Regions from separate parts of the Homo sapiens genome. Here all the other regions are linked to region 1. The links come from fine-mapping of genetic effects on gene expression. A gene starts in region 1. Each other region holds a variant in brackets. All regions are shown on one strand. Distances are between the middles of the regions. Region 1 holds the start of LY75 (lymphocyte antigen 75). Region 2 holds the start of LOC124906083 (a long non-coding RNA gene). Region 3 overlaps LY75-CD302 (LY75-CD302 readthrough). Region 4 overlaps LY75-CD302 (LY75-CD302 readthrough). Region 5 overlaps LY75-CD302 (LY75-CD302 readthrough). Region 6 overlaps LY75-CD302 (LY75-CD302 readthrough). Region 7 overlaps PLA2R1 (phospholipase A2 receptor 1).

Evidence for each region.
Region 2: its variant is fine-mapped to the expression of LY75 in whole blood (TOPMed, PIP 0.98).
Region 3: its variant is fine-mapped to the expression of LY75 in whole blood (INTERVAL, PIP above 0.99).
Region 4: its variant is fine-mapped to the expression of LY75 in whole blood (TOPMed, PIP above 0.99).
Region 5: its variant is fine-mapped to the expression of LY75 in whole blood (TwinsUK, PIP 0.94).
Region 6: its variant is fine-mapped to the expression of LY75 in whole blood (TOPMed, PIP above 0.99).
Region 7: its variant is fine-mapped to the expression of LY75 in thyroid (GTEx, PIP above 0.99).

What each region holds. Positions count from the first base shown.
Region 1 is chr2:159,902,624-159,906,692 of GRCh38, forward strand. It overlaps LY75 (lymphocyte antigen 75), which reads right to left and starts at 2,133. Exons shown (of 35, transcript NM_002349.4): 1 at 1,966-2,133. The coding sequence starts at 2,059. LY75-CD302 (LY75-CD302 readthrough) reads right to left here and starts at 2,133. Exons shown (of 38, transcript NM_001198760.1): 1 at 1,966-2,133. The coding sequence starts at 2,059. RefSeq lists enhancers at 1,045-1,094, 1,145-1,194, 1,415-1,464, 1,605-1,684 and silencers at 1,865-2,324, 2,094-2,335.
Region 2 is chr2:159,792,028-159,796,096 of GRCh38, forward strand. The region is part of intron 33 of LY75-CD302 (LY75-CD302 readthrough); the gene reads right to left. All of the region lies in intron 1 of CD302 (CD302 molecule), which reads right to left. LOC124906083 (a long non-coding RNA gene) reads left to right here and starts at 3,163. Exons shown (of 2, transcript XR_007087273.1): 1 at 3,163-4,069. The variant T/C (reference allele first, on the strand shown) is at 1,918.
Region 3 is chr2:159,801,046-159,805,114 of GRCh38, forward strand. The region is part of intron 33 of LY75-CD302 (LY75-CD302 readthrough); the gene reads right to left. It overlaps LY75 (lymphocyte antigen 75), which reads right to left. Exons shown (of 35, transcript NM_002349.4): 35 at 2,310-4,069. The coding sequence ends at 3,999. Among named protein-coding and RNA genes, the nearest start is that of CD302, 4.9 kb to the left of the region's middle. The variant ATTTTTT/A (reference allele first, on the strand shown) is at 1,560.
Region 4 is chr2:159,868,056-159,872,124 of GRCh38, forward strand. The region is part of intron 13 of LY75-CD302 (LY75-CD302 readthrough); the gene reads right to left. All of the region lies in intron 13 of LY75 (lymphocyte antigen 75), which reads right to left. Among named protein-coding and RNA genes, the nearest start is that of LY75, 35 kb to the right of the region's middle. The variant G/A (reference allele first, on the strand shown) is at 2,181.
Region 5 is chr2:159,874,974-159,879,042 of GRCh38, forward strand. LY75-CD302 (LY75-CD302 readthrough) reads right to left here. Exons shown (of 38, transcript NM_001198760.1): 10 at 3,660-3,748; 11 at 3,351-3,520; 12 at 471-670. LY75 (lymphocyte antigen 75) reads right to left here. Exons shown (of 35, transcript NM_002349.4): 10 at 3,660-3,748; 11 at 3,351-3,520; 12 at 471-670. Among named protein-coding and RNA genes, the nearest start is that of LY75, 28 kb to the right of the region's middle. The variant CAAAAAA/C (reference allele first, on the strand shown) is at 2,036.
Region 6 is chr2:159,857,450-159,861,518 of GRCh38, forward strand. It overlaps LY75-CD302 (LY75-CD302 readthrough), which reads right to left. Exons shown (of 38, transcript NM_001198760.1): 15 at 3,372-3,440; 16 at 913-1,027. LY75 (lymphocyte antigen 75) reads right to left here. Exons shown (of 35, transcript NM_002349.4): 15 at 3,372-3,440; 16 at 913-1,027. Among named protein-coding and RNA genes, the nearest start is that of LY75, 45 kb to the right of the region's middle. The variant C/T (reference allele first, on the strand shown) is at 2,099.
Region 7 is chr2:160,001,207-160,005,275 of GRCh38, forward strand. All of the region lies in intron 11 of PLA2R1 (phospholipase A2 receptor 1), which reads right to left. Among named protein-coding and RNA genes, the nearest start is that of PLA2R1, 59 kb to the right of the region's middle. The variant C/A (reference allele first, on the strand shown) is at 1,808.

The DNA.
Region 1 (4,069 bases):
TTAAGCATTTTGTAGAGTCTCTACCATGTGTTCGGAATGTACAGGTAGGTGCAGCAAGAGAGAATCAGAAGTCTAGGTTTGTTAGTTCAAAAACAGGTCCTGAAGTGACAGTTGAGTCCATGGCAATGTCCAGGGAGTCAGAAAGTCTTCACGCACGATTGGGTGGTGTTGGCTGGTGAAAACCTCAGGAGTCCCTGATGGATTGGTTTACTTCAAGCTGTTAGCTCTCCAAGCAGGCAAAAATGTAAACTAAGCACCTGGCATCTCTCCAAGGACACAGAGGGGCTCCTTCAGTGTTTGGGTAATAGAGGCCACCTGCACAAGCCTAGCCGTGCACATGTGACGAGGTGCATGCCATCACCAGCATCATGAAGCGGACACTCTTGCCAAACAATTGACCCAAATGGCTGGGGGTTCAAAATTCCAGTGCTTCCCCAAACAAGGCCACAAGTCTGCTCTGAGGGTGAGAGAAAATCGATCAGAGTAGCTGCTAGGAGTAAGGAAGGATACAGGATAACAAAACCTGTGGGGACCTAGCACAGGGGGAACAGAGTTAAACCTGGTGCTTTTTGCTTTGGGTCAGTGATAAAGGGCAGTGATTGCAGAGATTGCAAGAATTAGGGAAATCCTGAAATTTGTGAAGGAGATAAAAACAGGACTGAAGCAGATGTCGATGGGAACCAAGAGGTTAGTGATTGAAAAGTTAGTGCATTTTCACTGTAGTTAGTTGCTGCAGTGAACTTTTCCACCTTGGATTGTGGGGCAGGCAGAATAAATTATCAAGGCAATAAAGGATCTTATTTTAAAGGATTCTTTTGGTAGTTCCTAGCACACAGGGTCAAAGGAGAATAGAGAAGTGTGACTCAGAGCAGGGTTCATTTCCAGGTCCTTGCTGTAGATAGGATGATGCCATTCACACTCTGAGAAATCTCTTCCCATCGCTCTCCGAAGGAAGTCTAAACCAGATGGTAACTTAGCTTAGCTGCAAAGAAAATAAGAGCCACCAACAATTTAATGTTTTTCAAACTGCCTGGACAATCTTTTCCTTCCTCATACAGGCACGATAACAGAAGTGGCCGGTGGAGGGTGGCCCATTGAGTGCCCATGATGCAGTCCAACCAAGAAACAAAGTTCTCTGCACACCCCTCGCCCAGGCAAAAAGAGAAAGTAAAAGCAACCGGTTGCTGCCAAGGGGTGTGGTGTGGTGGGGCTGGCACTACCCTGAACATCAATGAAGGCTGTCTGTTTCTGGTCCTGCTTCCGCAGTGAGAGGCAGCAGGTCCCCAAGCAGGCGACCTGCCCTTCACCGTGAGGCTGTCAGCCTTGGGGGAGCGGGGTCATTTGGAGCTGATAAACCAATGAGAAGAAAGGTTTGTTGCTCTAGGCGGTGGGTGAGGGCATCATAGCTGACTCTTGGTCTTGGTCACTTTCGGAGGAGATGGTTTATTTAACCTGACTTCCTTCCTGATGCGCACCGTAGGCGCAGTGAAATCCGGGAATCGTGGGGAATCCTTGGCGCTGTGGGTGGAGGCTCCTCTTGGCCCTGTGGCCAAGGTGACCAAGGGCCGAAGGAAAAGCGAGAACGGGAGGGACGGGACGCAAGAGGGCAGATGGGGAACCCCATACTCCAGCAACATTATATAAGAGAGGCGACGATGGAGCAGCGCACCCGGCCAAAAAAGCCTCCGTGCGCCTACTCTACGGTGCACCGCGTCCCCTCTGCACCAGAAGGGCCCTGTCCTCCCACATCCACCGCGCCCTCCTCCGGGCCCCCGAGGGCACTGGGGCGCTTCCTCTGCCAGACCTCCCCTGCGACTCACTCTTCCGGCTCCAGAGCCCCCCCGCCCCAACAGCAAAGCAGCCGTGACCTGCCCCAGGGGCGCAGCCCTGCCCCAGGCTGGAAGGCAGCAGAGCTGTGGCGTCGAGGCACCCAGCGGACTGCGGGGCTGGCGTGCCCGCGGTTACCTGCGCGGCCAGAGGGCTCCGCGAGATCGAAGAACCAGAAGAGCAGCATGAGGAGCCCCGCCGGGCGGCGAGGGGTCGCCCAGCCTGTCCTCATCCTGAGCTGGCGCAAGCCTTCCGGCCGGGTCCTCGGGCGCACGCGGCTCCCGCCCCGCCTGCTGAGCGCGGCCTGCCCCGCCCGCACCTCTGTCTAGGCCTCTGGGGGCGCCCCGGCCCCGCCCCCGCCGCCCTCGGCCAATCAGACGTGCGTCTCCTCGGCCCCGGGGCGGAGCGGGCCAGGTGTGGGAAATGAACAGGGCTGGGCGCTAGATACCTGCGTGGGGTAGGACCCGCGAGGAAGAGGTACGTGCGGATCGGTGGGAGAGCCAGGCACCAGACAGGCTCCTGCACTGGAGGGTTCGGTCCCCGCCTCTTCATCAGCCAAGCTGGGGAGATGCGGCCCTTACTGGGACTTGGCACCGCCCTGGTGGGTGGGTTCTATCAGTTTAGAACCTTGGCCTCTGCCTGGCGCACTGTGGTCAGGGACGACTTCTCCATTCCAGCCTGGACTGGAAAGGGACCCATGATCTCTTCTACCCCGGAGGAGGAAGTGAGCACCTGCCCTGTGGGTGGCTGCGGCCAAGCCTAAGAATTCAGTCGTCCTTGGCAACGTCTTGGGTATTTTGACAGTGCAAACAAAGGTGGAATAATGGTACACTGCAGTTCTACCCATAGTTGTTAAAGAATTAAAAGCAAGAATTACTAGAATGACCAAACGACACTTCCAAGGATGACTTATGCTTTATAAAAAGTTGACCTTTGCGAGTAAGCTCTTTGCTTAATAATTTAATGATAATAATAATTAGCTGGTAGAAATGTAGAAGTCTGCATGCAGAACCAGAAATTTCATGTCCCACTCACTCTCTTCCTGTGGACACTGCTATCATTATAAAGAGGCCAAATTCTTAATGACCTAAGTTGCTCAAATGTGAATGTTTTATACTTTTAAATCTCGTCTTTGCTGAGCACATAATGTGTACTTGAGGTGGCCTCCATCCTTGTTGCATGAGGATGCAAAGACCTAGGTTGCTCTTCCTGACTCCCACTGCCAAGGTTTCACAGTTGGCTCCCAAACCTGCTCTGTCCTCTCCCCAGGGTCTGGCCTTTCAGTTCCATAGATATAGTGAGCACCTGCCATCACAGGATCTGGGCACGCCATGGAACAGAAGGACAAAAAGACAACATCTCTGCCCTCCCCTGAATACTGGGGAGACTGAGGCACTGTGATGGATAATATTGTCAGCTCGATTGATATGAACGAATGCAAAGTATTGTTCCTGGGTGTGTCTGTGAGGGTGTTGCCAAGGAGATTAACAGTGGACTGGGAGAGGCGGACCAGCCCTCAGTCTGGGTGGGCACCATCTCATCAGCTGCCAGCATGGCTAGAATAAAAGCAGGCAGAAGTTGGAAGGACTTGACTGGCTGAGTCTCCTGGCCTTCACCTTTCTCCCGTGCTAGATGCTTCCTACCCTCGAACATCGGACTCCAGGTTCTTCAGCTTTTGGACTCTTAGACCTATAAAAGTGGTTTGTCAGGGGATCTCTGGCCTTCGGCCACAGACTGAAGGCTGCACTGTTGGCTTCCCTACTTCTGAGGTTTTGGAACTCGGACTGGCTTCTTTGTTCCTCAGCTTGCAGACAGCCTATTGTGGGACTTCACCTTGTGATCATATGAGTCAATACTCCTTAATAAACTCCCTTTCATATATACATGTATCCTATTAGTCCTGTCCCTCTAGAGAACCCTAATACAGGCACACTCAGTGACACAGGGCAGAATGAATGGGGAAACTCTGACAAATGTTGAGGGAAGGCAACATCTTAGCTGGGTCTTAAAGAATGGGTAGGAATTTGAGCAGGCACAGCTGGTGGGAGAAAACCAGTGACAGGGCAGAGGCCAGAAAATGCAAGCAGAGTCAGAAGACAGTCCAGAGTCCAGGGTAGCTGCCCTGCGGGGGGTGTGTCTGTGAGAGAGATCAAAGTGGTTGTGGTGGGGGCCCCAGTGGAAATGACAGCAGAAAGGTGAGTTGTGTCTGTTTTGTGAAGGGCCTTGAATTTATTCTAAGGCA
Region 2 (4,069 bases), 110 kb before region 1:
AGGAATTCTGAAGCAGTTGCTTGTCTGGGTGATTCTGGCTTGGGGTCTCCATGAAGTTACAGTGAAGATGCTGGCTAGGGCTGCAGCCATCTAAACACTGAACTGGAGCTGAAAGGTCAGCTTCAAGAAGCCTCACTCATATGGGTGGTGAGCTGGTGCTGGCTGTGGGCAGGACACCACAGTTCCTCACCACGTGGACTTCTACACAGGGGTGCTTGAGGGTCCTTATGACATGGCAGGTAGCTTCCCCCAGAGTGAGTGATTCAAAGGAGGGCAAAGGTGGATATGCAATGCTTCATACAATCCAGCCTTGATTGTCACACTGTCTTATTTCCATACTATCTTATTGGTTATTGTATTAGTCAGGGTTCTCCAGAGAAACAGAGAACCAACTCTGTGTGTGTGTGTGTGTGTGTGTGTGTGTGTGTGTGTGTGTGTGTCTGAAAAGATAGGGAAAGAAGTCACATGGATATTTCAGGCAAACAGAGGGAGGAGCAAACACAATGCTACTGTGTTGCACAGTATGGGAATGACTATGATGATGATAATGATAACCAGCTACTCAAAGACCATTGCTGAATAACTAAGTTAGCAATACAGAAATGGTCCCGAACTTAATAATGGACAACTTACGATTTTTTGACTTCACAAGTTTATTGGGATATAGCCCCATTCTAAGTCGAGGAGCATCTGCATGTGACAAGACCAAAAAAAAATTTTTTTTTAACAGGGTATGTATAGAAAAATAGAAAACAGACTGTTGACTCACTTCCCCAAAACTTTCAACTGCCTTCTCCTTAGGCTCATTTCAGCATTAGCAGTAACTCCAGTTAATTCAACATGGAACCCCTTTTCTCATGCTATAGATCCCCGATCAGAGTGTGTGCCCCAGAAACAAGTTTTAAGCACTACTCAAAAGATATATTTTTACTTTGAGAAGAACAGTGCTCAAATAGAGGCTGGATAACTCCTGTGAGGAGATTGTTGACGTTCATGCACCTCATGAACAAAAGACTAAACTAAGTCGTCTTCAACGCTAAGTATCTTTGCCATAATCCTAATATAATTAAAAACCTGCCCACTAAGCTCTCTGCAAAGGGCCTATTACTCTTATTTCTTCACAGCAGTCCTGAATGATAGGTTGTTATTAATAATGCACTTAAATGACTCTTAGGGATTTTATAATTTTATAATTCTTTAATACGTACAGAAATTCAGGAGCCTCATGAATATTTTAAAAGCTGTACTTAGCATAACTCCAAAAGTTTCTATATAGATCCTCTGCCTAAAATTATCATGTGCTAAAAGAAGATAATGTCATATCCACAGGAATACTTTGCATTACCAGTCAAATCTAATAGAACTCTCTGTTCCTTTATAAGTTCTCTGTCTCTCTTTTTTTTAAAAAAAGAAAAAAAAAACAGGCACAGCATGAGGAAGTGATTCTTGGGACATACTTGTTCTAAATGTTAACAAAGGAAAAGGGAAAGACTTCTTTTTCATTTTCATTGTCAATAATAAGACCTTTGCTCCTCTCCCATTAAGATATGAGTTGTAGTCACATAACTTCCGCAAGGGCAACTGTGGCACAGACAGATGAAGAAGAGGGGCTATTTATTACATTTATAATGTATGGAGGAGGGAGTGGCTGTTCCAAGTCCCTGACTAATCCAGAGATTCTGTGGCTGTACTCTGAGCTTCAAGATCTCTCTGAATCCCAAATAAATTGAGGCACTCTGACACCTCATCCCCTCTCCATATCACTCTTCCCAATCTAGCTTTCAAGACATCCATCTCCATATTGTCCCATCACTTCCCTCTTCAGAAGGGCTGTTATAATGTATATTCATAGAAGGGGTGTGCCATTGTTAATCTGTACCTTTCTCTTTGGGCATCACTGGTCTATTTTTTAAAGAT[T/C]TGGTCTCAAGATTTGCTCTCAAAATCTAAAATAGGCCAGGCGTGGCAGTTCACACCTGTAATCCCAGAGCTTTGGAAGGCTGAGGTAGGAGGATCACTTGAGCTCAGGAGTTTGGGACTAGCCTGGGCAACAAAGTGAGACCCCACCTCTACAAAAAAAAAAAAAAAAAATTAGCAGGGCATGGTGGCATGCACCTGTAGTCCCAGCTACTCAGGGGGCTGAGGTGGGAGGATCACTTGAGCCCAGCAGGTCAAGGCTGTAGTGAGCCATGATTGCACCACTGCACTCTAGCCTGGGTGACAGAGTGAGGCCCTGTCTCAAAACAATAAAATAAAATAAAATAAAATAAAATAAAATAATAAAAAAAAAAACACTAAATAACCCACAGAAGGAATGAAATACTTGATATGCACAATAAAAATTATGGAAAGTAACCTTGCTGCAAAACTAGTTTTCAACACATAAGCAAATTGTTAAAAGATTCTCAACAGTAAAAGAAGTCCTGAAATAATACCTAATTGAAATTTCACTTTTTCATTGGAAGAAAAATAAACATTAACATTTCAAAATTAATTAATTTATTTATTTATTTATTTATTTATTTATTCATTTATTTATTTTGAGACTGAGTCTCGCTCTGTCGCCCAGGCTGGAGTGCAGTGGCGCGATCTCAGCTCACTGCAAGCTCTGTCTCCTGGGTTCACGCCATTCTCCTGCCTCAGCCTCCTGAGTAGCTGGGACCACAGGTGCCTGCCACCACGCCCGGCTAATTTTTTGTATTTTTAGTAGAGACAGGGTTTCACCGTGTTAGCCAGGATGGTCTCGATCTCCTGACCTCGTGATCCACCCGCCTCGGCCTCCCAAAGTGCTGGGATTACAGGCGTGAGCCACCACGCCCAGCTCAAAATTTATTTTAAAATACTCTAATATTTAATCTGAGATAATTTCCCCTGAAACATAACTGTGCCATACACAAGAGTCAGAAAAGGTGGCATCAGGCCGGGCACGGTGGCTCACACCTGTAATCCCAGCACTTTGGGAGGCCGAGGTGGGCAGATCACGAGGCCAGGAGTTTGAGACCAGCCTGGCCAACATGGTGAAACCCCATCTCTACTAAAAATACAAAAGTTAGCCAGGCATGGTGGCGCATGCCTGTAATCCCAGCTACTCGGGAGGCTGAGGCAGGAGAATTGCTTGAACCCAGAAGGTAGAGGTTGCTGTGAGCCGAGATTGCGCCACCGCACTCCAGCCTGGGTGACAGAGTGAGACTCCATCTCGGAAAAAAAAAAAAAGAAAGAAAGAAAAGGTGGCAGCAATAGATTAAGATGATTTAAGGCTTTGAATTCATTATGAAATGAGTGCATAGCAGAGGTAATATAATTTGAAAAAAATTGCAATCCACTTATCCTACCTACTTTTTAAATAACTCACCTAAATTTTTTCATCCTTTTATTATAACTTAGAATAAAGTGCAGAGACACAAATCAAAACAAAACAAAAATCCACAAGATGGTAAAATCTCTGTTATGGAGCTTCTTTCCCCTGGTAAGAGAAGCAACAAGCAAGACAGATGAATAAACACAATGCATTCAGAAAGGCTTGGAAAAGATAAAACATGGACATGTGACAGAGAATGTGGGTGTTCAGGGAGGCTTCGGAGAAGGTGACATATGAACAGAGATCTGAATGGTGGAGGTGGGGGCAGCCATGCCAAGGACTGGGGGAAGGTGGTGTGCACAGAAGGACCAGAGGTGTTGGAGTACCCAGATACTGTTTACTCTGTGGATACACAGAGTGAATGGCAGGAAGGGTGGTAAGAGATGACATCAGGGAAGAAGGCAGAGGCACCTCATCTAAGGCTTGTAGGACATGGCAATTCAAAATCCCTAGATTCTGATCCACATGATGATCACAGAATGAGGACTTACTCGGAACATGCTTGTTCACTCAGCTCATGCCAGGCATAGGAAACCACTGACCAAATAAATACATACTGATCATCTATTATGTGCTTAAGCACCCTTACGGAAAAACTTTTTAAAGCGATGCCATGGATTTTCACTCAGGAATTTAAAGAATGTTTTGTCCACTGTGATTTTCAAAATAATAGCTAAGAACAAGGTTAAGATCACTTCACTAATAACCTCCAGA
Region 3 (4,069 bases), 100 kb before region 1:
TACATCCTCTTTTGGCTCATGCCAGACTTCAGTCCCTTGCCTGCATTTTTCTCAGCCTTTTATTTCTCCCTTCTCCACCCAGCCGAAATACCACATCCTCTGTCCCCTTGTTCCCCTGGTGTGCTCACCTGGCCAACTCGGAATCTGTGGTCTCCGCTTTCTTCTTCATGCTTTTTTTTTTTTTTAGACGGAGTCTCACTCTGTCCCCCAGGCTGGAGTGCAGTCGCGCTATCTCAGCTCACCTCAACCTCCACTTTATAGGTTCAAGCAATTCTCCTGCCTCAGCCTCCCGAGTAGCTAGGATTACAGGCGTGTATCACCACACCTGGCTAAGTTTTTTCTATTTTTAGTAGAGGTGGGGTTTCACCATGTTGGCCAGGCTGGTCTTGAACTCCTGACCTCAAGTGATCTGCCCGCCTTGGCCTCCCAAAGTGCTGGGATTACAGGCATGAGCCACCTCGCCTGGCCCGTGCTCTCTTTTTCCTCAACTTTACTGAAGTTAACTGAGGACAGGTGGAGGAAATCAATCAGTTCTCCCGATGGCTGTCACTATAAACAATATGGCTTTTAATTTCATCTGGGCCTTCTATGCCTCTTCTGCAATCCTTGTATTTGATTTTACCTTAGTCACTGTCCTCTCCTATTTCTCTCATTGAGTCTTTCAAATTTATTACTCTTTTCAAGCTAAGATCCCAGGCTGGGTATGGTGGCTCACACCTGTAATCCCAACACTTGGGAGGCTGAAGTGGGAGGATCACTTGAGCCCAGGAGTTTGAGAGCAGCCTAGGTAACATTGAAATCACCTGTCTCTAGGGAAAAAAAAAAGTTAATGTTGGAGGTCGAGACTGCAGTGAGCTAGAGTTGCACCACTGCATTCCAGCCTGGGCAACTGAGACAGACCCTGTCTCTAAAAAATTAAAAAACTTTTTAAAAGACCCCATCTGCTACCCATCTTTCTCAGCAGACCTTGCCTTCTAGTACACAAGAAAACAGGTGCCATTACATATAGACAAACATCTTCAAATGCTTATCTGCAGTTCTTCTCTTGTGGTCTCAGAGAGGAAGGCATGCTTCTCCAGCCCACCCAAACCAGTTCCTCTTTCTGCTTAGGACTGCCCCTCTCATTTTATCTTCTCCAAGATCTTCCATTAATGATTCCCTCTCCCCACTGCATCATCAACTTCTCTCTGTCCATTATTTTTGTTTTTGTTTTTGTTTTTTTCATCTCAGCTTCTAAACTTGTGAACCTCTTTCTCTCCCCTTTAGAAAAAAACCCTTTTTCAACCCTTCTTTCCCCTCTGGCTATGGCCCAGCCCCTTTCCTTTCTGTCTCCATCATACTTCTCGAAATCTCATGTTCCTCATCTCCTAATTTCCCTTTCAATTTTTTTTTTTTTTTTTTTTTTTTTTTTGAGACAGAGTCTTGCTCTGTCACCCAGGCTGGAATGCAATGGTACGATCTCAGCTCACTGCAGCCTCTGCCTCCTGGGTTCAAGAGAGTCTCCCGCCTCAGCTTCCCAAGTAGCTGGGATTACAAGCATGCACCACCACACCGGGCTA[ATTTTTT/A]TTTTTTTTTTTTTTTTTTTTTGTATTTTTAGTAGAGATGGGGTTTCACCATTTGGCCAGGCTGGTCTCAAACTCCTGACCTCAGGTGATCCACCCACCTCGGATTCCCAAAGTGCTGGGATTACAGGCACGAGATGCCACACCTGGCCTTCCCTTTCACTTTTAAACTCACTTCCATCTGGATTCTGGCTTCACTACTCTGCTACATTTGCATTGGCTAAGATGGTCATTGGTTTCCTAATTCCGAGAATCCAGTTTTATCTGACTTTGCCTTTCCAGTATTCAGCAATTGGATCAATATCGACTTGTTTTTCAAAACAGGGTCTTGCTCTGTCACCCAGACTGGAGTTCAGTGGCACGTTCATAGCTCACTGTAGCCTCAAACTCCTGGGCTCATGGGATCCTCCTGCCTTGGCTTCTTGAGTAGCTGGCACTACACATGGGTGCCACCACACCTGGCTAATTATTTTATTTTTTTTTAGAAATGGGGTCTTGCTTTGTTGCCCATGCTGAACTTGAATTCCTGGGCTCAAATGATCCCCCTGCCTTGGCCTCCCAAAGTGTCAAGAGGGATTACGGGTGTGAGCCACTACCCGCCTATTTATTCTCTAAAAAATGCACACAAAATCTCTTAGCAAATGCCTCGCTTTACAATAGGTGGTCAATTTATTTCTTGTACTATATGCCTAACATAAAAAACCCAATCTAGAGATTTTTTTTTTCAAGAAGGATCAACTCCAGCACTTTTACTTTTACTTAAAAGATAAAACAACTTTATTATGACATCACCATTATATACAGCTGTGCTTTTCACATCAAGTTGGCTTAGTTCTTGGAGGAAAGTCTTAGTGACTAAAATTGTACACAGATCACAGGACAAGAGAACTAGTCTAACAAATTCAATAAGAAATCAGGACAACTGTAGACTATATAAAAACTGTCTTAGAAAATTATTTACAACTTTATCATAGTGTAAATACTCTAAATGTAAAATAAATCTATGGATTTTATACAAAAATAAAGTACAAATGTAAGTTAAATGCCGAATAAAACATTTTCACCTTTTCCAGTGGATGCTATTACTAAGACTATAATCTAGGTGTCAAAACTTAAAGTGATAACCACAAAGCAATGTTTTCTTAATCACTCATAATTTTACATTTGTTAGTAGTCATCACAAGGTTTAGAGTTCCACTGAAAAAGTCTCATTTTTACAAATGCAACTCATACACTTTCCTTCATGGACCCTTTCTCTGTTTAACACATGTTAAAAAAGTAAAACAAAATTCTTAGTCAAAAGTTGACATGCTATGTGAAGCATATAAATTGTAAAATTATCAGTCTTAAATACCTAGTTGATTCTCTTTACAAAAGAAACAGTCATGTAATACATCAGAAAATGCAAAGCACACTGCTACAAGGTACCTACTCAATCTAAAAATAATGTTCCCACACTTGGGAAAATGTTAAGCACTAAATCTTTAAAAGTCATTGTTTTATAAACAATTATAAACAGAAAAAAACTCTTCATATTTACATAATAATGGTATGAAATAACTTTGGAATAATATAAGAAACATCTTGCCAAGAGGAATCATTTTGCTATATAAAAAGTAAGCAGAGGCCAGGCGCGGTGGCTCATGCCTGTAATCCCAGCACTTTGGGAGGCCGAGGCGGGAGGATCACCTGCGGTCACGAGTTCGAGACCAGCCTGGCCAACATGGTGAAACCCCATCTCTACTAAAAATACAAAAATTAGCCGGGCATGGTGGCAGTTGCCTGTAATCCCAGCTACTCAGGAGGCTGAGGCAGGAGAATCGCTTGAACCTGGGAGGCGGAGATTTGCAGTGAGCCGAGATCACGCCATTGTACTCCAGCCTGGGCAACAGAGAGAGACTCAGTCTCAAAAAAATAAAAATTAAAAAGTAAGCATGTCTTATTGTTTATTTTTCCCCAGTGCTAAAAATGACTATTTTGAAACAATGCTGATAGAGTTTACAGTTCAATTTTTACTTTGAGGTACTAATTTTGCATTTGGCCGGATGCTCTTAAAAATTAAAAAGTAGACATGTCACCTAGTAATATGCCTATTTTAATTTTCTAAGAAGTTTTGTTAAAAATTCTATTAAAATATACATATCCTAGTTACCAATCACATTCATACAGAGAAAATGAACATTAAACATATTACTGTACAAACAATTTGGACTTCAGTTCCAGCTTTGGAGTCCCCTCCATTCTATTAATTAGGGTGATAAACATGGCATTTAGCAGGGAATTAACTGTGGATACCAGCACATGCCTAAGATCTAAACAACTGAAAAAGTATTTAAGAGTTCTACTTTGGAGCAGAGTAAATACTGACACTGGGACATTTTAAGTGACTAATTTCTCATAACACATTAGTGCAAATTAGAAAACTTTTAGAAGAATTTAGTCATGGAAAGAAGGAAGCATAATCTCATCTTCATTCACTCCTTGTGCATATCGAACTGATGAGAAAC
Region 4 (4,069 bases), 35 kb before region 1:
ATCATTTTCTAATATAAATGGGTTTGCTTCCTTCTTTCCTTTAAGCCATGGTTACAATTTTGGTTTTAGAATATGTTCTCTAAGCACAGCACAGGCAAACAATTTCTTTATTATGGAGAAGTTATTAAGCAAACAAAGCAGTCTGCTTACCATGGCATTGTGTTAACTGCTAGGATCAGAGTACAAATAAAATACAGTTCCTATAAGTGAAGGGATTAAGGAGATTTGTTTTTTCTCTGTGCTGTTCTGTTTTCTAAATTCAATGTGCATTACTTTTATGATTAGAAAAAAATTAAACATAGTACATTCTATGGAAAATAGGTTTTGTAAAAGCTAAATGTGTAGAGATGTAAGTAAACAGAAAGGGTTTACACTAAGGGTTTACTATGTTTATAATCAGGAGCTAGGATTTGAGGTGATTGTTTGCTTCATTACTCATTTTTATATTTTCCAAATTTTATATAATGAACTTGTATTAATTTTTTAAAGAAGGGAGTGCTCAACAAGTGTGATTCAAAACAAAGAAACAAATCATAAAAATTTCCTTTCATGTTTTGTTTCCTAGTGTAATTCGTTCTGTATATGGATGCTCTTAATGGTCATTTCTATCACATATGATATTCCAATGTTTTCTACTTATTGTTTCTCACAAATATCTACAACCTCATTCATTAGTACTTATCCATGGCTCCTCGTTCCAGTTAGAGTTACTAACCTCTTGCTTGGAATCTAGAGCTTATGTCAGCATTTTACTTAAAAATACTTTATCTGGATAATATGATATTGTGTGTGTCAAGCTTGAAATCTAAGGGCCATTAAGTTGCCCTGCTTGAAACTTACATGTCAGGAAGTATTGGTGGTGTATTTGAAAGGCCATGCCCCACACATATACACCATGGAATACTATGCAGCCATAAAAAAGGATGAGTTCATGTCCTTTGTAGGGACACGGATGAAGCTGGAAACCATCATTCTGAGCAAACTATCGCAAGGACAGAAAACCAAACACCGCATGTTCTCACTCACAGGTGGGAATTGAACAATGAGAACACTTGGACACAGGGCGGGGAACATCACACACCGGGACCTGTTGTGGGGCAGAGTGATGGGGGAGGGATAGCATTAGGAGAAATACCTAATGTAAATGACGAGCTAATGGGTGCAGCAAACCAACATGGCACATGTATACATACGTAACAAACCAGCATGTTGTGCACATGTACCCTAGAACTTAAAGTATAATAATAAAAAAAAAAAAGAAAAAGAAAGGCCATGGTCCAGAGGTGGCCACCATGAGGACTTCCATGATCACCAAAGTCACACTGGAGGCTTTGGTCATGAGCAGAATGAATGTGAGAACTGGGTTAATGTCAGTGAAATCGGAAGCTTGTTCATCAGCATGATGGTAGGATTGGGCTCTCACTGGTGAAATATAAGTTATTTGAGATGCAGGGATTAGCTAAAATATTTAGAGAAACTCTCACACTTCTCAAGAGTGTATTAGAATCTTGCGAGGCCGCAGCCTGTATCTTAGTAGGGCTTGATTCGAAACAACCCCACATCCAGTCATTGGGTCAGGTGATTGTGATGGCCTGATACTCACTACAATGGGAACAGAATGCTGCCACAGAACACTGCCACATCTGCTTCAAGTAAATCTGTGCAAGGTGATAGTTAAAACACCAAAAAGGACAGATTGCTGGAATGTTGTCAAGCTTACAAAACACGTTGTATAAAATGTTTTGTGTCTGCTTCAATGAATGTTTGCATAGCAAATGTCTGTATGTGTGGAAAATTTTGGTCTGAATTTTGCATTTGTTATAATCTATTCTCAAGGTTGAGGGAATAGCTAACACTCACCTCACAAAGAACCCAAGAGTTAGTATTTAGTATATACAAATTGCCTTGGGTCAGTCTGCAGTGAAATTTTGTATATTAATTTCTAACACTGGACAATGATGTCTAGAATACCTGAGATTCTACGATAGATGCTTAATAAATAAATATTTATGGAACACAGGTATCATATTTTGCATTAGATTCCCAGTACACTGTAGTGAAACTACATTCTCTAATGAGAAAAACACAGCAGAAGCTATATTAGAGCAAATCTGGGCCAGGCACTGTGGCTCACATCTGTGATCCCAGCACCTTGGGAGGCCAAGGAAGGTGAATCGCTT[G/A]AGCCAGGAATCTGAGATTAGCCTGGGCAACATGGAAAAACCCGTTTCTACAAAAAAATACAAACATTAGCTGGGTGTGGTGGCATGTGATTGTAGTCCCAGCTACTTGGGAGGCTGAAGTGGGGGGATTACCTGAGTCTGGGAGGTTGAGGCTGCAGTGAGCTGTAATCATGCCACTGTACCTCAGCCTGAGTGACAAAACAAGACTGTCTCAAAAAACAAAACAAAAAGCAAATCTGGAAAATATAGAAATTTTCAAAGAAAACATTCTATTCATTTATTTTTTACAGACAGCATCTCACTCTGTTGCCCAAGCTGGAGTGCAGTGGCACTATCTTGTCTCACTGTATCCTTGAACTCCTGGGCTCAAGTGATCCTCCTGACTCAGCCTCCTGAGTAACCAGGACTACAGGTGTGTGCCACCATGCCCAGCTAATTCTTTTTTTTTTTTTTTTAAATAGAGATAGGGTCTCCCTATGCTACCCAGGCTGGTCTCGAACTCCTGGTTTCAAGCAATCCTCTCACCTCAGGCCCCCAAAGTGCTGGGATTACAGGCATAAGCCACCACACCCAGCCCATAGAAAAGACTTTAAAAATCACTCAAAATCTTACTTCCTAGAGATATAATAGCCATTACCCTTTTTGCAGTCTAGTTTTAAATGTAAATAGTATATTTTTTACTCTTTGATAATCTGTCTTTTCCTCTGCTTAATATATATAAACATTTACACATTATAGTATTGTTTTTATCTTAATGTGCAGGAGTTGAATTTCAAACCAAGATTAACAATAGTGATGATATAGGGATACTTACCTTTTTCTGACTTTCAGGGAAATGCACTTAACAATGCTTCATCATTAAGTGTGATATGGCTATTAATTTGAGCTATTCTTCTATTCAAATAAGAATTTACATATTAGTTATATTTACTAAATATAAGTGTATATTTATGTATTAAACCAGGAATGAATAGTGGATTTTACCCAATGCATTTTCAGTACCTATTAAGATGATCACATGACTTGTGATTATTAACTCAATTGCTATTTGAGTAAATATAAGACAAGCACATAACATAAGCAAGTGAAGTGGGGTCAAGAAGTAATAAATTAGAGACCTGGCAAATTGGAGAGTCAGGCCCCATTTCAGGAGGCCACCAGCTACTCAGCACTAACTTTTATCTGTTGCACAATGAAAATGTTGCTAGTTGCTTTAATTTTTAAAATTAAAAAATTTAAAAAATTTTTAAATTTTTAAGGATTTTTATTAGAATTTCACAATTTTGTAGTATTTTGTGGCCCCTTCCTCCCAGGAAAAGAACATTATAGTCTTAGAGCTGGATAAGTACTAATTGGCAAGCTTTGTTTTAAGTCTCTTTCAAAAGTGCAGAATTGGACTTTATTATTATTGAACAAATTTGCAGACTCACACTTAATCAAAACTGATAATGGGCTGGGTGTGGTGGCTAATGCCTGTAATCCCAGTACTTTGGGAGGCTGAGGTGGGCAGATCACCTGAGGTCAGAAGTTCGAGACCAGCCTGGCCAACCCCTTCCTCTCTGTGTATATATGTATATATGCAGGTATATGTGAGTGTGTGTAGATATAAATACACACACACGCACCTTGTTTTTGTTTTTTGTTTGGTTGTGTTTAATTACTTAAGATCAAACTCCTTCCCTTGCAAACAAGGACATTCCAATTTCATATCCAAATTCCATTTTCTAGCTAATTTGTATGACTCATTTCTCCTTGACCATATCTGTATATTCTGGTCTTAGTTCCTTTGCTTATGTTCTGTTTTTTTTCTGGCTCCTTCTCCTTCTCCTATCTTGCCTTTTGAAATAATACCTACCTTCCAAGAATCAGCCTTCTTTATGACATTTTTC
Region 5 (4,069 bases), 28 kb before region 1:
ATATTGTAAATATGTTTATAAATATATATATTGTATATATAAATATATATATTTGTATATATACACACAAATATATATATGTTTGTAAAAGTGTAAATATATATACACTTTTTTTACATTATTAGGAGTGCTGGAGCTGTTAATTTGACAACAAGAATTAGAGGAATATGAGGATCATAGGCATAGTGGCAGTATGGCATATAGTACACCAACTTACTGGGAAAAAAAGACCTTGGGGTGGAGCCACTTCTGGCTTTGGGCCTGCCCTTTCAGGTAGGACACGTGCAGGGTGTGGGGCTGAGGCACCTCACACCAGAGGTTCAGCGATGCCCTGCCAAGGACTCTGTGCTCCAGAGCACTTTAGTTAGGTTACATAGTACTATGGAGAAGAGCATAATTTGTACAAGGACATGAACAAGGGTAGTGGAAAAATAACTTCATTGAAGGATAGAATGAGAATGTCACTTTACCTTATAACAAGAAAGACTTGCGGGGAAACTCTGCCAGCCTTCAGGACAGGGGTCATCAGGCTTAGGGGATGCTTCTTCAGGCCCAAGGGGTCCACTCATTTTCTTGCAAATTGAAAGTGCTTTGAAGCTTCTGCAGTCCTTCACCTCCCACTTTCCAACAGACTTTCCAGTAGACATAGCCACGCAGCCGCCCGGGGAAGCTGGGATTGAAGTGGAAAGCTCAATTAAAAATTAAAACGTTAAAGTTCAAACATTTTCTAGTGTTTCTACTCTTTACTTCAGCCAAGTTGGGGAGAGAGAATAAAAAAAAAATGGAACAAAGAGAGGAAAGAAATATGTTGTTCAGAATAATAATGACAGGTGTTTATTATTTGTAAAGTACTTTTTGAAAAAGATTAATCCTCATAACAAACCTATGGGGGGATTCTATTGTCATAATTTGAGGTACAGTGAGAATGAAGTGACTTGTTCAAGGTCATAGAATTAGTAAGTGGTTGCCCCAGGATTTGTGCCCAGGTGGTCTGTTTCTAGAGCTGTACCCTAAATACTACTGCTGCTTAGGATAGTGGTTCAAATTAGCTTAAAAACTTTGAGCAGTTTTTAAGAAACTTAGTTAACCTCAAAACACAACTCTCCCAGATTCTGATCCAAAGGAAAAGCTGGTACAATAAAGGTAGAAGGAGGTATGTGGTAACATACATTTGTTTACCGTTAATTTTATGACAGTCATAATTTTATGTATTCATAACAGTATTAAAAGGTAGTTTGAATTATCAGTTCCATTTTGTAAATGAAGACTAAGTAACTTGCCCACAGTCAGAGTTAGTGAATGGTAGAGTTGGGGTTGAAACCAGATTTGTCTGACAAAACATCATGTTCCATTTTCCATTACATCACACTGCCTGAAGCAGGTAAAAGACAAGAAGAGTTACATATACTGAAAAGTAATAGGACAACTTCTATCCCACCAAACAGAGAAGCCACATAGTCTCATATACACAAACAGCAAGAGGAATAAGAAACTGGGAAAAATAATTGCCTTGCTACCCTGAATGGGTGTGCTATTTTTCCCTGTTCAGTCCTTCTATCCACGGTGTGCCCATGATAGACCAAGTTGGCTGAGGATGGGTGCAATAATGGTAAAGAGAGCTTCACATAGCCTTTCTGGTCATAGAATGGAGGAAGTAGTCATGGTAGCTACTTCCCAAGCACCTCTCCAACCACCAAGACTTAGTTATCAAGAACGTCACCTTTACTCTTAGTGTCTATAAAACAAATCTGGCCAGGCACGGTGGCTCACGCCTGTAATCCCAGCACTTTCGGAGGCTGAGGTGGGTAGATCACCTGAGGTCAGGAGTTCGAGACCAGCCTGGCCAAAATGGTGAAACTCCGTCTCTACTAAAAATACAAAAAAAATTAGCTGGGCATGGTGGCAGGTGCCTGTAATCCCAGCTACTTGGGAGGCTGAGGCAGGAGAATTGTTTGTACACGGGAGGCAGAGGTTACAGTGAGCCGAGATCGAGCCATTGCACTCCAGCCTGGGCAAGAGGAGCGAAACTCCATCT[CAAAAAA/C]AAAAAAAAAAAAAAAAAAAGAAAAAAGAAAAAGAAAAAAAGAAATCTATGTGCTTTATCCATTAGAGTGTTCTTAATCTGAGATTTAACCAGGATCAACATCTGTATACTCTATCTTTTTCAGACATAAAAGGATGACTTTGTTACTAGCAACATCACTCATGTTGATGGTGATGACCATGTGTCCTAACTTTTGTGGGCATTTTCTATTTCAAATAACATGTTCAATTGTAAGCTCATATTTTCCAATCTCTGTGTTATAAAAAATAGTCTTCATGATCACATTAGACCAACACAATAAAATATAAATAATTCACAGGGTGAAAAGTAGAATGCTTTATACTGCTGTCTTATTCAAAGCCACTGGCTTAAAAATCAGGAACTCTGGATTTCATTAATTCAATAACCAGATGATCTTTGTCAAGTAAATCACCTTTTAAAGTCTCTGTTTTCTTAACTCTAAAAGTATTTCTGAGGTCCTTTCCGGCTTAAGTGTTCTGATTCTATGGCAAATTATGGTCAATGCTTTAGGCTGGTTGGAGAAAGAGGAAATAACTTTCAAAATAAATAAGAAGCCAGGCACAGTGGCTCACACCTGTAATCCCAGCACTTTGGGAGGCTGAGGCAGATGGATTACTTGGGGTCAGGAGATCGAGACCAGCCTGGCCAACATGTTAAAACCCCATCTCTACAGAAATACAAAAAGTAGCTGGGCATGTTGGCATGCACCTGTAATCCCAGCTACTTGGGAGGCTGAGGCAGAAGAATCACTTGAACCTGGGAGGCAGAGGTTGCAGTGAGCCGAGATCACACCACTGCATTCCAGCCTGGGCAACAGAGTGAGACCCCATCTCAAAACAAAAACAAAAACAAAAACAAAATAAATAATACAAGATAGCCTCCATAATTCTTACCCATTGAGAATAATGGAAGAAAACACATTCAGTTTTGAAAATAGGTTAAGAAGCAGAGAGATGAAAATGTAAAGAGCCTCACACGGGAGCTTCTAGATTCTATTTGAGATTTACATGGAAAAGATTTTAAAAACTCACACTGGTGCTTCTAGCTCTGAGCCATTAGATGGTGGTTTGGGAGAACTAAGTTTTTGAATTTCTTTCATTGGATTATTCCCAAGGACATAATAGGGAAGACATAGCCACTGCTTCTATTTATGGTTCCATAGATAGACTCCAATCCTGAAGATCATCATGTCCCTCACATTTCAAAAGTAAGTGAGGAACATCTTTGGGAGGAGTGCTGCCTTTCACTAGTCACAGTATACTACTACTTCAAAGATTAAGACACTCACCTGGCTCAAGAAAATTCCAGTTGGAAAAGGTTACAGCCCGCCTTCTTCCACCAACAGTTGCCCAGTTATACTCTCCACAAGAATCTACATCTCTCAGGCCAGTCCAGAAGTATTTTCTTAGAGATTTATCATACTTTTTCATCAAATCATTTAGGTATTCTTGCTCAAATCTACAAAAGGAGAATCAAATTGGCAAGTGTTTCACAATGATTGACTCTATTTGAAGATGCACCTTTTACTTAGGAAGACTGTTTGGCAAAAGAATTCAGAGTTGAAAGTTTATGAGTACAAGTTTACTGATGGTCACACCTGCTAGTGATAGTCAGATTGCAGTTTGTTCCAAAAGGGACCTCATCCTCATAAATCTTGTAACAGGTTTCTCCATGTCTCTTCCAGCCCTAAGTCAGAGGAAAAATATTGTCAAACTCTTTTCCAGACTTGATGGTGTCCCGTCTGGCAAGCATGTTTCTGCTACATTGATAACGTCTTAGAACTTGTGGAAATTGAGGACATGGCTATTGAAATCATACATGTGATGAGGGTGGGATGCAATTTCACAGATAACCTCCACAAGACTGTGGGCCTGTGTCAGACAAAAAGTATGGGTTACTTCTCATATGGGTGGCTGGCTCATCATAAGAGTATAATATTCACTGGATGAATTATTTTTGAATATTGATATTAGTGGGGGAAGTAAAGACATCAGCCTTGAGGATAGT
Region 6 (4,069 bases), 45 kb before region 1:
AATAATTTGAGGCTGGGTGCAGTGGCTCATGCCTGTAATTCTAGCACTTTGGGAGGCTGAGGCGGGCCAATCACCTGAGGTCAGGAGTTCGAGACCAGCTTGGCCAACATGGTGAAACCCTGACTCTACTGAAAATACAAAAATTGGCTAGGTGCGGTAGTGGGTGCCTGTAGTCCCAGCTACGCCAGTGGCTGAGGCAGGAGAATCACTTGAACCTGGGAGGCAGAGGCTGCAGTGAGCCAAGATTGTGCTACTGCACTCCAGCCTGGAAGACTGAGCAAGACTGTCTTAAAAAATAATAATAATAATTTGAGAATTAAAGTCTTAACATTTTTCTTAATATTTCATGTTTTCCTGGAAAAAGTAAAGTAAAATGGTATCTACATTTCTCCCCACTCTCCCTTCTGTTATCAAAGGCTATACTATCAATCTAACTGGCTTCTCAAATTTGAATTTATATAAAGTATTAGCAGTTTTATAGTTCATTGAAAATTGCTTCTAAATTTTACAGGGACCTGCCAAATTTTTATTTCTTGACTTCTGCCTTATTCTTCCCAAGATTATCTTTATTTTTTCATTTTGCATCAAAATAAAAACGAAAATGATTCTGCATTTCTCCTTTTGCTTAAAATAATATTTCATCCAAAATCTAATCTCCCTGAATGAGCCTCACATTTTATCTTCTATGCAAATTCTTCCATGATCAAAGAGTAAGATATCACTAAATTTCAATAAGCTAGCCTTCTATTAGAAGCCGGAGTCAGGCAGGGGGTGCTCCACATATTAATTGCATCATCATCATAGGCTTTTAGACATCAGAATTATAGATCAAAATGCTCCCCTAGCTACTTTGAGCTAGGCATTCACAATGTTAACATGAGAAGGTTGTGAAAAGGAATAACTACCACTTACCTTTTGGAATTTGGCACACCCATTCAAGTTTTGTATCACAAGCAAAAGGCCTCAAATAAATAAATTCTCTATCATCATAGAAATGCCAGCCTCTTCGCCATGGCCTATGAAATACCTATAAGAGGAAAAGTATTGCAGAATATTTTGAAGTTGATACATCCCTTATGGAACACTAAACTGTAAGCCCTATGACTTTGATCTCTATTTTAGCTCTAGCACCTAAGATATTTGTTCGATAAATGAACACATGAATTAATGGAATATTTAAACAGTAATACCCTGAGCAAGAGCCCTCAAAGGGGCTAACAAAGGAAATATGTTGTAAAGTCATGTTTATGTCCAAAATGCAAATTTTCTCCCCCACACCTGACAATTTTTGTTAGAATATTTATTTCAGAGGTATCCAAGCACCAAGCTGTGATCAAATTAGATCAGAAAGCGACATAAAGGTCCAGCCTCAGTGGCTCAGGCTCCTTCTCTGGTGTTACCATGCCATTTCTAGGATTTTGCCCTTCTCCACATGGTCCAGGATGGCTCATTACAAATTCCAGTCAGCAAGTAGGATAAAAAGGATAGGGGAAGGCATTACTTGGGAGAGACATCCATCACTTCTTAGACTATTTTCTCTTAAGACCAAGTTTCTGGGGGTTCTGTGGCAGGTGAGGTAAGATTTTCCTTACAGAACACTGCCCTGGCTGGGCTTGTTCCTGATGCAGGTTGCATTAGTATCTCTTTATTTATTTGGTAGATTTTCAAATCTCTCCATACTTGGCAACTCTATTTCCCTAGAACACAGTTTATTGTACCAGTGTTCTCAACACTACTAAAAATTCCATAAGCTTCTCTGAAGTTTTCACCTTTTCCTGTGTTACATTGGGAATTCTATAAAAATGACATGTACTACACAGTTTATTACTAGAAGAGTTACTTTGAAAACAGTGCTTTCCTGTGGTTTTGTCAGTTCTTATATCCCTCAGCCTTCCTGTAACATTTCTGGTCAGCCACCTTGTTGAATCTCTTTCTTGGACTACAAATCAAAGATATTAACTGATGTCTCCTCCATCTTCATCTTTTTTCACTCTATATATTGGCAGTTCCTCCAAATCCACTTCTTGGCCCTTTTTTTAAAAATATACATTTTCCTTTCAACTCAAGACTCTTGATCTCAACTTACCATAGCATACAT[C/T]TTATAGCTAGCTTGGATTCAAAATATCTGAACTAAAACATACAATTTTCTCATAAATCAATACCCTTTCTATTTCTATAAATGCCTAGTCATATAGCATAGTGGTTAAGAGTACCAGACCCAGACACACATGGGTGTAAATTTCAGTTCTTTCAGTTTAAATTTACTCCATGTAAGCTGGGGTAAATTACTCACAGCTCAAATTTCCATGTGAGATGAATACAGTAACAGTGCCTACCTCACAAGATTGCTTATGTGCTATGTGACATATGTGACATGCCTAGTATAGTGGCTGGCTCATAAAGGAGTTAATCAGTGTTAGCTGCTCCATCATCATCATCACCACCACCATGGACCATCACCATCACCATCCTTATTATTCTTTCATAATATTCTTGTTCTTGCATAAAACTTGTATTTCGCATGTCATAGTCTTTACTCAGTGGTGTTGTAATTGCTTGTTTACTTGTCTTTATTTCCTACTAGACTTTAGTTTTGTGAAGACAATGGCTATGCTTTGTACCTTGTCATTGTTCTATCACCCAGTGCCTCACTGACTCCTTGGACTGTTTATGAAATGGATACATGAATGCATTCTGCAAAGGAAGATGCCTCACTGGTCTTCTATGCCTTCCAATCTTACCTGTTGCTTTTGACATCTGTCTCAAGATGAATCTTCCTCATACCCTCCTTAGTTCATGTGACCCTCCCTACTCAGAAACTTTAAAAAATGCCCTGTTGCCTATCAAGAAGTGTAGAAATTCCTTAAAGTGGCATCAATCTGATTTCCTAATACTGTTATCAAGGACAGCACCAATGAAACTTCTTGATCTGTATTCTGTTCTCCACTGCCCTCTTCCACTTCCACCTTATTTTATACCACTTTCTCATACCATCCCCTCATGAAAAAACCTTACCCTATCCCATTTGTAGAAACTCTATCCATCCTTAAAGTCCCAGTTCAAGTCCCACCTCTTCCTGGGAAATGGCCATGGGACTCACTTTCTCCTCTGAATTTCATTAGCCTTCCTCAGCCCCCTCATTTGGAGCATATTACTGCGTGGTAATGAGAGAGGTTTTCTTGAATATGAATTTTATCCTCTCAAATGAAGTGTAAGTTAGGCTGCTGAGGGCCAGGCCATGGGTGTGCTTATCTCTCACTGCATCTAACATCATGCTTCACATAAAAAGACACTCCATGGATCTGTTACTTGACTGCATATGATGATGGACTTATGTTTTAAATATGCAGATTTTCCAGCATTGTACTGACCTTGACAGCAGCACAGTCTCTGATGTCATAATCCTGCTGAAACTCATTTGGCATGATAATAGTAGACACCTGAAAAGACAAGAGAGGCTTGAGAATTTAAGACTGATGTATAAATATTTGCAATTTAGATGTAATTTAGGCAGCCTTAATCACTCAAGTGCGTTGATATGCCACAGAAAGAAAACTTTTCCATCTCTTTTTTATATCATGATGCTAAATCATGAGAGGACTTAGCAAATGTCATAATGTCATAAGTTTCCAAACAAAGGAAGCCACAGTTTCAGAAGTGGAAGTTAATAGTGTATTAAGTTCGCCGCTGGAGTCATAGAGAATCAGGTTTGCAAAATACTTTTTTCTTTTTTTGCATGTGTTGAAATGCTCATTATTTGATTAACTAATCTCAGATATGCTCCAATTTGAAAATAAACTCAAGGAGTTTTACATTTAGAAAGAATAAAAAAGGAGGTGACATTGGAGTCACCAATTTTTGGTGACAAAAATTGGAGTAAATATTGAATATCTGAGAATAATTTTGCTCCTATAACTATTACACTAATATATCCTTATAATATAAATGTGGAATAATAGCAAGGATTTTCTAGAGGTTTCTCCAAACAAATAATTTCCTCCAATAAGGATACTTTTGGCCAGGCACAGTGACTCATGCTGGTAATCCCAGCACTTTGGGAGGCCAAGGT
Region 7 (4,069 bases), 99 kb after region 1:
AAATTATAATCCTTTTAAAGATGAATAACTTTGATATTGTTGATTTTGTTAAGAATGCATGTTGAATAGCTAGTGTAACAAATAAAAAAATAGATTTAGATAATACAATTTTCAGATAAGTAAAGGGGAAAGAATGAAATGAGAAAAGAAGAAAAAGATACATTCAAAAGATGGCAAGAAAGAAGAGAAAACATGACTAAAAAATGCAGGATAAATGGAAAGGACATAATAAAATGGAAGAAATAAATCCAATTCTATACATAATCACAAAAAATATAAGTAAACCAAACTATACAGTTAAGGACAAAGAATGTGTGAATAGAGTTTTAAAAATTTAGTTATATGCTGTTTATAAGTGATACATTAACTCTAAGAACACAAAAACATTCAAAGTTAGAAAAAAATTTAAAAAATGTACTAGGCCAATACTAATTTTTAAAAAGTTACTGTAGCTACATTCATGGACAAATTAACTCTAAGGAGAAAATAATTTTGAAAGAACAAGAGGATCACTTGGGATACTACTATACCGATTTTGACACCACAGGTGGGATATCACAATTCTAAACTTGTATGTTCCTAATAAAACAGCCTAAAAAGTATGTAATACAAAAATTCGACAGAACTACAGGGAGAAGTTTACACATCTACCATCATAGTGGGAGGTATCAAACACTCTCAATAATTGATTGATCACGTGGGCAAAAAATATTGAGGCTATAGATGATCTGAACAACACATTTAACATAATCTGTTGACATAGATGAAGCATTTCAGGTAGCAAAAGCAGAATATACAATCTTTTCAAGTACATATGGGATATATATATATAAAAAGAACACATGCAAGGCCATAATACCAACTTTGTATTTGAAAGGACAGGCACCAAACAAACCGTATTTCTTGACCACAGTGCAATTAAATAAGGTATTGACAACAAAAGGAACTAGAAACACCTGCATTTTGGGAAATTAAAAAAAATCTTCTAAATAATTTATGGGTTGAAATCATATTCATATTGGAAATTGGAATGTATTCTAAATTGAAAAATTATAAAACTCTACTAAATCTTGTGAAATACAACTCAAGCAGCACTTGGAAGGAAGTAGGAAGCCTCAGTAGTCTTATAAGCATTACAGAAATTGAATTAGTGGTTTTTAAATTTCCTATATAAAACATAAGGCAAATTCTAATAAATGTTTACTGTATATATAGTTCTGTAGAGAATAAAAGTGAACACTCTCCAATTCATTCTATGAAACTTAGCATAATCATGAAACCAAAGCTGTATACAAATGAAGAAATGTGGACTAGTTTTCCCTATGAAAAAAGGTTGCTAAAATCATAAACCTACCACTCAAAGGTTAGTTTGTGTACCTGCAACATAGGCAGCACCTAGGAGCTTTTTAAAAAATGCGGATTCTTGGACTTTACCCCAGATCTACTGAATCAGAATTTTAACTTCATCAAAATCTACAGGATATTCTTATGTACATTATAGTAGGTGAAGCTTTGTACTAGCAAACTAAACCCAGAGATGTATTAAAATACATATCACTAAGTTAAGTTTACCCAACAGTACAAAGCTGGTTTACTACTGTAAAGCAATTTGTCATATTAAGAGAGTAAAGGAGAAAACCTTAGGATTGTCTTAGTAGATTCAGAGTGTTGAGTAAAATTTAAAATCTGTTAATAATTTTAAAAAAGAGCTCCAAGAAAACTAAGAATAATAGAAATTATATTCTTGTATTACTGCTCTCTTTTCAGCTACATTGATTCTATTTTTTCTATTTCTTTTTCAATACCA[C/A]ACTGCTTGAATTATGTTAGTGCCATATTGGCAGGGAAACAGAAAATGAGAATGTAGGTTATGTTTATTATGGTATTTCGAATCAGTAGACGAAAGGGTGAACTTACTATATAGTGTTGAAATTGGTTACTATTTAGAAAAATTAAAATGAGCTATCTCCTAGAACATACTTTTAAAATCTCAGATCAATCAAAATTATACATTTAAAAAGCCAAACTATAAAAATATAAGGTTATATTTTTATAATCTTTGGTTGAGCAAAGCCTTTAGAAAATATAAAAATCTACAAAGCTAAAATGAAAAATATAAACTTTTTTACTACAAAAAGTTTAACATTTATGTGTGACAAAACATACCATAGAAAAATTAAAAGGCAAATAGCAAACATGTAGAGTTTATATTTAGAATATAATGAAATTTCCACTAAGTAATGAGAAAATAGAAAGTGTCCAAAATAAAAATAGAAAGTGATCAAATTATGTGACCATGTAGTTGAAAAACAAAACAAAATGTATAGAACAAATATGAAAAATTGCTCAAATAACTAAATGAAAAGGTAGACATTAAAAGAATAGTAAAACTTTTTTTATTCTATCAAATTGGCAAAAATGTAAAAGGTTGTTACATTCAGTATTGACAAAAATGTGGGAAAGCTGCCACTCTCAAATTTTGTTAGATGAACTTGTAAACTGATAATGCCTCAGTAAGATGTACACTTTTAGGCCAACATGCTCATAGTTATGCACAGCGACATCAACATAGAGATATTTGTTGTAACACTTTTGTAGCAGAAATGAAAATGAATTTCACCCAATGTCCTTCAACAGGGTCATGGCAAAGCAAATTATGAGTCCTACATACTATGAAATTCTATGTAGCTGTTTCAAATGTCGACTAATAAATATTGATGTGGAAAGTTCTCTAAGACAGATTGCTAAGTGAAAAAAATCAAATAACAGAAACATGCAATCCTTATATCCATTTAAAAAGTACATATGCATAAATGTATTTAAATGCAATGCATAGACAAACACCAGCAGGATCATACCAAACAGTTAACAGTGGTTGTTTCTGAAAAGGGAAATGTATTGATGTTGGGAAGGTGAAGAGAAAGATGTAACGGAGTACTTCCACATTTTACTTAGCACACTTCTCTATAATTAGAGCATCTACATAATTTACCATCCAAGCCAGAAAAATTTGGAGTAAAAATACCTGCTGTTAATTGCTCTGGGACACCAGACATAAATTAGAACTGTTCTGGGCAAATGAGGTATATGGTCACATTATCTATAGTAAGAATATATTCATGATTTCATCGTTGAATTTTAAAAATCGGTGGAGCTTTGCCAACCACTGTCTAGAGTTGGGATTAGCAAACCACCTTGGACTGGACTTTTGTAATTATGAGAAACAAGGCTTGTGTGGCCACTTTTATATTTTAGTGTGAGGCCACACTAAAGGGGAGATATACCTCCCCCTGTGGCTTAGCAAACACTTTCCTTACCTTGGTATATAGAGCTCTGAGGATGGAATAGACCAATTTGTATAAAGAGCTCCGGGCCTTCAGGGAGGGAAGAGCCTGGGGCCCCTAAGCCATTTCCTCTAGATACAAACTTAGTAACTCTTTGCTGTTGTCTCTGGCACAGCCCTGATGGAGATACAGGCAAGCAAGAACTCACCCTGAAGTAGAAGGGCTGTTGGGTCTAGGCTGTCAACCTCAGCTTAATACAAGGGCCTGAAGCTTGTTCCACAGAGACTGGTTCTAGTGTAGGCTGTGGCGGAAGACATCAGCTTCTCTGGTACTGACCAACCTGGCACAGTTTCATGCCTTGGGATTCAGAGCTGAACACCTGAGGATGAACTAGTAGAGCTGTTAACGCTGGAATCCTGGCTAAGGTACCCCAGGCAGTGACTGTGAACTGATTGGATGTACCCATATGTGCCCATCCACCGTACTTTGAAGTTTAACTGACCATTCTGAACTGAGTAAGCACTTGAGATTCTTAGACAGTGGGGGGTGCAGGTGGGGAGAAAGACATTAGGAGGGAGAAGCTGGACTTGCTGCTAATAAAGGCAGTGGTGGTCCTGAGCGATGAATTTATACCTTTAACATGTCAAATGACTCATACGGATTATACTTTTAAAAATGACCATTGGGCCAGGCAATTTGGCTCATGTCTATAATCCCAGCACTTTGGGAGGCCAAGGTGGGAGGATTGCTTGAGCCCAGGAGTTCAATATCAGTCTGTCTCTACAGAA